2 separate regions of the Homo sapiens genome follow, and region 2 is linked to region 1. Evidence: fine-mapped expression QTL. A gene starts in region 1. The other region holds a variant in brackets. All regions are shown on one strand. Distances are between the middles of the regions.

What was found. PIP is the estimated chance that this variant, and not a neighbour inherited with it, causes the effect.
Region 2: its variant is the best candidate, but not a certain one, in a credible set for the expression of PRRX1 in cerebral cortex (GTEx, PIP 0.71).

Annotation. Positions count from the first base shown.
Region 1 is chr1:170,661,755-170,666,150 of GRCh38, forward strand. PRRX1 (paired related homeobox 1) reads left to right here and starts at 2,377. Exons shown (of 4, transcript NM_022716.4): 1 at 2,377-2,705. The coding sequence starts at 2,465. RefSeq lists enhancers at 1,282-1,809, 3,010-3,870.
Region 2 is chr1:170,621,149-170,625,544 of GRCh38, forward strand. No RefSeq gene overlaps it. Among named protein-coding and RNA genes, the nearest start is that of PRRX1, 41 kb to the right of the region's middle. The variant C/A (reference allele first, on the strand shown) is at 1,837.

The DNA of each region.
Region 1 (4,396 bases):
CATCCCAGTTCCTTAATTAAATGCATGGAAAGAACCGAGGCGAGCACATCTGGTTTCAATCTACAGCCCTTTGATGGCATCAAATGTTCTTTTCCCAGATCAGGGCTGGAAGTTCTGGGCTAACTATGGCCGTTTGGAGCCCAGAAACCATTTACACACACTCGTACCCTTCTTTCTCTCCAGTCGAGCCTCTTGACTATAGGACGAAAAAAAAAAAAAGTCTAGCAATCAAGGGAGTGCGGGAGTACGGATGCGTGTGTGTGTGTGTGAGTGCGCGTTTAAAGAACATAAAACGCCACAAATAAGCACTTAATATTTTACTGAGTCGTCATACAGTAACTCATTTCTAATGAGACTGTTAAAGCTGTTACCAAATTCCAACAGGTCATGAAAAAACTGCTCAGCACCTCTCTGTCTTCTGTCAGGTTAGGGCTCCGCAGACGGACGACAGAGGATTATCCGTAGACTTAGATGGGGGTTCCTCCGCCCCTCTCTGTCCTCCTGCCACCACAGCCAGGCTGGACGCAGAACCGCACGGAAGCCTCCCCAACTCCTGCCTCTGGGAGTGCTCCTGCCTGCTTCAAGGAATCTGGGCAGCGGGACCCTCTGGGTTTAGCGTCCTCGCCTGGGGAAGCAACTTTGGCCTTACCGTAGAAGTTACAAAATTGGCGGGGGTAGGGAGAAAGATTATAATATATATTTGGAGTCCTTTCTTCCAGTTTAATAAACACGTACTTTTCTCATTGCCCTAGTCCTGGTATGCCTAATGGCGGGGAAAGCCTCAAATAAACTCGGTGCCCTCTGGATCTCCCCAACCTGCCTTTAGTCCTTGCGAGAGGCGTGAGAGAACTTCCTATTATCATCCCTTTTGTTATTTTTATTACATTATTTAATAGGCTCCCTCTACGGAACCAAAAATAGCCTTAATATGCTTACTTTCTCCCTGTACTCCGCCCCAAACTGTTAGAACAGCAGAAAATTTTTTTTTGGGGGGGGGCGGTTTGGGGGAAGGCAGAAGGAGAAGAAAATTTGATTGTGATGGTGGTGGATTTTTTCCAAATTTCCCCACAGCTGTTATCAAAACATGCAAATGAGATTTTCCAACAGGATCTTAAACAAATCTGGAGGAGTTAATGCCGAAGCAAAATAATCAGCACGTTTGAAGTGACTGTGAGTTTCAGTTTGTCTTTTCTCCCCGTGATATTATTGCAGGGGAATGATAATTAGACCTTTAGAAATCCAAAGGGGCTCTCTTGCTCTCTTCCCTCTCTCATTTCTCTTCTCTCTTTCTCTCTCTCTCTCTCTCCCTTCCTCCCTCCCTCCCTCCCTCTCTCCCTCCCTCTCTCTTGTTCCCTCCCTCTCCCTTTCTCTCTAACTCTGATGTTGGCAAAGGGGGTTTTCTTAATCAGACTGTTTTTTGGTCCCAGGGAAAGGAGGAAGAAGGAGATTGTGATGGAGAAAGGGGGTCTGTGAAACGTCAGGCACAGCACAAAGGCTTTGCCACGTAATTACAGGCTCCTATTAAGTCGAGATCTGCCCTCCCAGGGGTCTCCAATTTTCTTGTATTCCCTACAAAGCCTCCTCTGCATGCCAGTTTGTGCCTTTTGAAGTGCCAGAGAGCTTCTTGATCCAACTGAGAAGGAAAAAGGAGCCCAGCAAGAAGAGGGGGAGAGAGAGAAGGGGAAAGGGGGGAACCCACCAGCACCCTCCGTCGGACTCTTGAAGCCTTTTTTTTTTAATTCTTAATTTTTTTTTTTACTCTTTACAAAAAGTAAAGTGAGAATCCTGCTCTCTAATACATCTGCAAGACATCACCCTCTCCTCCTGAAACTTTAGTCACTCCTGAGAATCCACAGGAGTGCAGAGAGGGGGGAACACGTTTTCTTGAAGATGTTTTAAAGCTGGAACAAGCCTTCTTCTGTTGGTGCTTGAACTCTTGCCTGGGAATAACTTTTTTAACCTTTAAAAAAACCATTCACTTTGATTCTTCTCTCCCACCCCTTCTTCTCTCTTCTTCTGTTTGCCTAACTCCCCCGCCCTGCTGGCCTCCGCTTTCCTCTCTCCCCCTTGTTATTATTTTTAGTCTGTGCGTGTGGACACTTTTGGAGAGTTGGAAGGGATTTTTTTCTCCTGACTTGAACATAGGGTGACTTTTTAATATTGTATTTTACTGTGGATTATCTCTTTGGACCGCGCCGGACTTGGCCTCAGGAAATCAACCAATGCTGCGGAAGGCGGCTGGTGCACAACGCTCTGCTCTACAGAAGGGGGTCCCCCACCCTCTTTTCCAATTTTTTTTTTTTGGCCTTCCTCTCCTTCCCTCCCTCTTCCTCCCTCTCTCTCTCTCTCTCTCCACTACCCCCCTCTTTCTTCCCCACTCGGCTCCTCTCCCCCCTCGCGCCCACAGCGTTTGGTGTTGATTCGAGCGGGAAGAGGGGGGTGGGTGGGATCGGTGGGGGAGACCATGACCTCCAGCTACGGGCACGTTCTGGAGCGGCAACCGGCGCTGGGCGGCCGCTTGGACAGCCCGGGCAACCTCGACACCCTGCAGGCGAAAAAGAACTTCTCCGTCAGTCACCTGCTAGACCTGGAGGAAGCCGGGGACATGGTGGCGGCACAGGCGGATGAGAACGTGGGCGAGGCTGGCCGGAGCCTGCTGGAGTCGCCGGGACTCACCAGCGGCAGCGACACCCCGCAGCAGGACAGTGAGTGAGGGGCGCATGCCCACGGGGGTGTGTGCCCGGGACAGAGGGCGGGGACCCGTGTAGGGCAGCTAGAGCCCGTCCGCGGCCAGAAAGACAAGGTCCTGGGACCAGGAGAGGTGATGGCAGACTTCAAAGGAAGGGCCAGTCACAGGGGAAACCAGATGAGAAAAGCGGGTCTCGGCCGAGGGCATAGCCAAGGAGGACGCTGGAGAGAGGCTCCAAGGTCCGGGGACACTCCGAGGCCCTGCGGTCTCAGGCAGGGACTCTGTCCGCGGCGGACTCTCTTTACTTCGGCTAGGCACCGGCTCGGTTCATCCCGCACGCGGGGCGGCGGGGCTGGGCTGGGAAAAGGTCTTAGCGGGGTGCAAACTCAGAGAGCCAGCGCTGTTTGGGAAAGCAGCAGGTTAAAGATGCTGAGTCGGGTTGGAAGGGCTTCTCTCGGGCAGCGTATGACGGCTTGAGGGAGGGCACCAGGCACAGGGAGCAGGACTTGGCGCTGCTCAGGCTGCACTCTCCACGCGGGCACCGTAAGGCCGGGCGCGACCGGGAGGCCCCGAGAGAACGCCCGGCCCCAGACGCTGGAGCTGCTCTCTGCCCCCTGCTGTTGCCTCTACCGCAAATGGGTTTGAGACTGGCAGAGTCAAAAGCCCGGCTGGCTTGGGAAAACTCGGGCCAAGCAAAGGGAATGTCCTTTAAGGGTGAAACCTGAAATCCAGCCCCGCATGATCCCGCACAGGCGAGCTGCATCCGGGAGGCGCGAGCTTCAGTGCGGAGGCCAGTGTCACCTTAGAGGAGCTCTCCCTATTGGCTCTTAAACGCCCAGAAAAGTCCAGTTTCCCTTCCCCATCCTCACCGACCAACCTCGCGACCCATGAAAATCTCGCTTCGCTAGTGCCTTAAAAAGAGACTGCAATTGTATCCCCATGCCCCCAAGTCTGTAACAGACCGGTCACCCTGTTCATCCCAGGTGACATGTGGCCAGATATGTACAGATACTCCCTCTTCTCCTCGAGGTTGCAAGAGTCTGAACTTAGCTGTAAGTTCTCAAATGAGGCTGGTTGCTTTCTATGTCAGTAGTTGCTGGTTACCATTTTTGTCTTCAAATTTGGAAATCGTGGAACCGGGGGGCCCTCCAGCATTCTATGATTTTCACAAAACGTTGCCTATTTCAGACTCTCAAAGAATAGACATACAAATCAAACTGCACATAGAAACAATTGGAAACAGGGTCCGGGCACAGTGGTGGCCCCGCGGGCCACGCTACAGCAAGCCGCAGAGAGAGCCTCTGGTGTGCTCAAGACGCCTGGTCTTCACCCTGCTTCCTTAGTTCCGGCCTGGGCGCCCCTGGGTGTTTTTAGCCAAAAGCGGCCTAGGGCCGATCCACCCAATGCATTAGCAGACTGCTACAGGAACTGAATGAGGAAGTCTGGCCTGGACACCAGAGAAAGGTGGCCAACTCTGAGGAATGAAGAACCAGGTGTCCTCAAGTTCCGCATAAAGGGCTAGGCGCAGAGACAGAGACGTTCTCTTTAGGGTTTGGGTGCTTGAGAGGCTGCACCCGCAGCATTACTTAAGTGTTTGCATAGGCACTCTTAGTTCTAACAAAATGCACTGAGAAATACTATGATTGTTTTTAAACGTTTTACCAGGGAAAATGAAAAACGAAAAATGTAGGGAGAGTCCAGGCGCGG
Region 2 (4,396 bases), 41 kb before region 1:
GAACTTTGGAATATTTAAAATGGAGAAACCAAGAATTTTCTGTAATCAGTATTAAAATTCTGACATATAGAAGTAAAAATTTAAATAACAAGGTATAGGACAAGACTTTTATTTGATACAGGAAAGGTCTTACTGGAGGAGAATATGACCCAAACTGGATAAGGACAGACACATCTTCCTTGGCCAGATCTGACAAGTGGCTTTTCCCAGTTGTCTCACAAAAAAGAATTACATATTAATAACCCATATGCTTTATGTTTCTAATATTTAAAAAAGAGGTGATTGTAAAATATTTCAAACAACAGAAAATAGTACACTATCACCAGCCATATTTTACATGGTTTAGTATCTTATCATATTCGCTTTAGATCTAATTTTTTGTTGCTGGGCGCGGTGGCTCACACCTGTAATCCCAGCACTTTGGGAGGCCAAGGCAGGCGGATCACTTGATGTCAGGAGTTTGAGACCAGCCTGGCCAACATGGTGAAACCCCATCTCCACTAAAAACACAAAAATTAGCGGGGCCTGGTGGCAGGCGCCTGTAATCCCAGCTACTTGGGAGGCTGAAGCAGGAGAATCGCTTGAACCTGGAGTGTGGAGGTTGCAGTGAGCCAAGATCACACCACTGCCCTTCAGCCTAGGTGGCAGAGTGAAACTCCATCTGACACACACACAAAAAAAGACCTTCTTTGTAAGAAAGAAGACATAGCAGATATATTAATATTTGAAGGGTACAATAGAAGACAATCCTCTCCTGCAATTCCATTTCCTTTTTTCTCTCCATGTTAGTACCTGAAATTGGTGTGTATTTTGTTGTTGTTTTTATACCTTACTACCTGTAGATGTATCAGCAATCATTATGTAGTATCGTTTGCACATTTTAAAATTTTACTTAGATAATATTATGTTGTTTTACATTTTTGTATGATTTTACCCTACCATAGTTATTAACATTTATCCAAGATAGTATATACATATATATATATCTTCTAATTATTGTAACCACTAAAACTAGTCTACATATGTATATGTGTGGGATGCCATTTAATGATAGTTCACTATTATTACTTTTCATTGTTGTACTTTTTATTTTGCATTTCCTTGATTATAGGGAGATTGATTTCCTTTACTGTGATTTCTCTTTTCATATCTTTTGCCCATTTTTCCCACTGGATTGTTTGACTTTGTGAAATTAATTTCTAGCAGTTTATAATATATTCTAAATGTCATTTCTTTGACAATTATATGCCTTGCAAATAACTTCTCTCTACTATGTCTCTTTAATGATTTATAGACTGCTGTATATAATGGCACATCTCACCTCAATTCCTTAAATCAGCCTCATCCACTATACATAGTTGATGCCAAAAAGGAAATATTACAGCAACTTCACTGTGCTTTTCTATCAACCTCATTCTTGTTCAACTTCAGTTATACCTTGCTTCTAGCCCTTGGCTCTGTTTTTCTTTGGCCTCAAATCCAATCTTTTGTATGACATTTGAACTTGCATATCCAAGTTTTTATATTCTGTGCTTCCTGAAAATGTTGTTCAGCACTCAACCTTTGTCATCTCATCTTTTTCCTTCTTGTGTAGATTCTCTGGATCTTATATAATTTATATCCCATGCTTTCATGATTGTGATAAGCTAGATCCTTTGGTCTAGCATTGAAATTTCTCTTAAATGCTAAATCTTTAATAAATGAATTTGTTTTCTTCAGACATATATTTCTATCATAGATCATCTTATTAATGTATTTTATGACTTCTTTATTATCTGTTTCCCTCCATTCCATCCTCCTACAAGAATGTAAACTTTATGAGAGCAAGAACTTTGT[C/A]TTTTCACCACAGTATTTTCAATAATTTTTGAATGCAAAAATGAATCCAGATAATGTTCTTTGCATGATTTCTTATTTTTGGAAACCCAGCACAAGTCTTTCTAACTAAGGTTCTATACCGTTCTCACATCATAATATGTAGCTAGTCAATCTTCATTAATTATTTTTGTTGTAATTTCGTTATCAGAGCACCTTTGATAAGTATGGCAGTTTTAAAACATGACTGTAAATTATTTGTCATTTCTCCCATAAAGAGGTCCGATTTGTGTACTCATTCTTGATTTGGGTGAGTTTGTGGTGCCACAGGATTTTTGAGACTGAGTCATAAAAAGTCATGCAATTTGCACCGTGTTTGCTGGAACACTTGCTCATGGAATCCTGAGTCATGATGTGATAAGTCCAACAGCATATCCTGAGGCCACCATACTGTGAGGAAACCCAAGCCATATGGAGAGGTCACATGGCAACATGCAGATCACATAGTCACATGTAGGAGTTCTAGGTGACAGTCCCTGCTTAGCCCAGGCTCTGATTTATTCCTGACCAGTTCCCAGACATGGAAGAAGCCTCTAAATGATTCTGTCTCTCAATTGTTCAAGTCACTCCCAGTCATTTAAGTCTCTTTAGCTGAGTCCACATATACTATGAAGCAAAGACAGAACATGTCCACTGTGCTCTGCCTGAATGCTAAATGCTACCCTATACAAAAAGGATGCCAAATTAATTTTGAGGCCAAAATTCTATTATGGTAGAGTGAAAAGACCAGATAAACCACGTTTTAAATTAAAATGTATAACCAAGCTGACAATAATTTGGATTTGTTGCAAACTAAAACTCCACCTTAATAGATCAACTATCCAAAGAAAAAAATCTTGTTTTCTATACTTTTTGGCTATTATCACAACTCAAAGTGATAGAAGAAAAATAAAAAATTGAAGACTCCAGCAAATATGTTTCTAAGATATCTGATTTGAACAAATCATCCTGGAAGAATACTTTATAAATTTAACCATCATTACAATACCCTCAAGCCCAAAAGCAGTCTAGAGCTTGGGTAATGTTGGCCCAAGAGTTCATTATAATGATGGAATCTATTGCGTCAATACCAAAATCCCCAGCAAAGACTCTTAATATATAAATGGATGAAGGTCAGTACAAATGAACCCATATTCAGGACACTGTCAGCTCATGCTTTACATATCACTCAGGGGCATTTTATTCTACTCATTACTGTCTTCTTAAAGCTCTCCTCTCCTTGGGAATCTGTGACACTATTCTAGTGGTTTTCCTGCTCCCTATCCAGGTTTTTCTTCTAAGTCTTCTGTGGACACCTGTTCCTAATGCTACTGCAAGCACTGTCTTCAGCTGTCGGTTCTTATCAAAGTCATTCACATGAGTGGCCTAATCTACCATATACATGCTGACGACCTTCACATGTCTACCTCCAATTCAGATTTCTCTTGAAGCTAAACACATAATCTGCCCCCTTGGACATATTCCCTTAAAGATAGAATCTTCTTTCTCCCAAGGCTGGCTTGCTGCAGGTGTACTGGTCAAAGCCTAGGAGCCACCCTACCTCTGGCTATGTGTGTTGACTTCAGACCAGAGTGAATGTGCATGGAATCTAAGACACATTTCAGGGCCTGATCCTGGACTGGACATGGCTGTGGGTCCAGGAAAAGGCTGGGTCTCCAGTAAATTTTAGAGGATCAACAGGAATTTTGAAAGCTATCTACAAGGCTTCTTGTAGAAATGCCTAGCTTGATGGCCTATGGAAGCTTTAATGTTTTCAGAAATTGACTTTGTTCTTAGACTGCAGGCTATATGACAATTTTGTCTATTTTGCTTAACATTGTATATCCAACACTTAACAGATTGCCTAATCTAGGATAGGCAGACAATATTGACTGAAGAGATGAATGTATGAATCAATGAGTGAATGAAATATTCTCAGAACTGTTTTCCTCCCAATATTCCCTGTTTTTGGAACGGTGACATCATCTCTTTCCATTTTCCCAAGCCAAGAACCTCAAAGTCATCCTAGATCTTCCTCTCCTAGCCCTCACACGACTGTTTGATCATCAATTCTGTCAATTCTACTTTCTGACTATCTGCCCCTCCTCCCCATCCCCATGACCATTGCCTGAGTTTATCACCAACCTCTTCATCTTTTACATGGCTATCAGAAAGGTAATTCTAAACACAAGTGCCACTACGTCACATCCTACCCAGCTCTGCCACTGAGCTGAATGACTTTGGACAAGTTACTTAACCATGCTGAGTCTTGCAGCAGATTGTGAGGCTTAAACAAATTAATAAAGGTAAGCTATTTAGAACAGAGCCTGGAATAAGGTAACAGTCAATAAATGTTACCTAGTGCTTTTGTTATTATAATCCACTATTCTTCAATAAACCTGATTTGTCTACAGAAAAACAAAAACAAAGGCCAGGCACGGTGGCTCACGCCTGTAATCCCAGCACTTTGGGAGGCCAAGACAGGCGGATCCCCTGAGGTCGGGAGTTCAAGAGCAGCCTGGCCCACATGGTGAAACTCCATCAT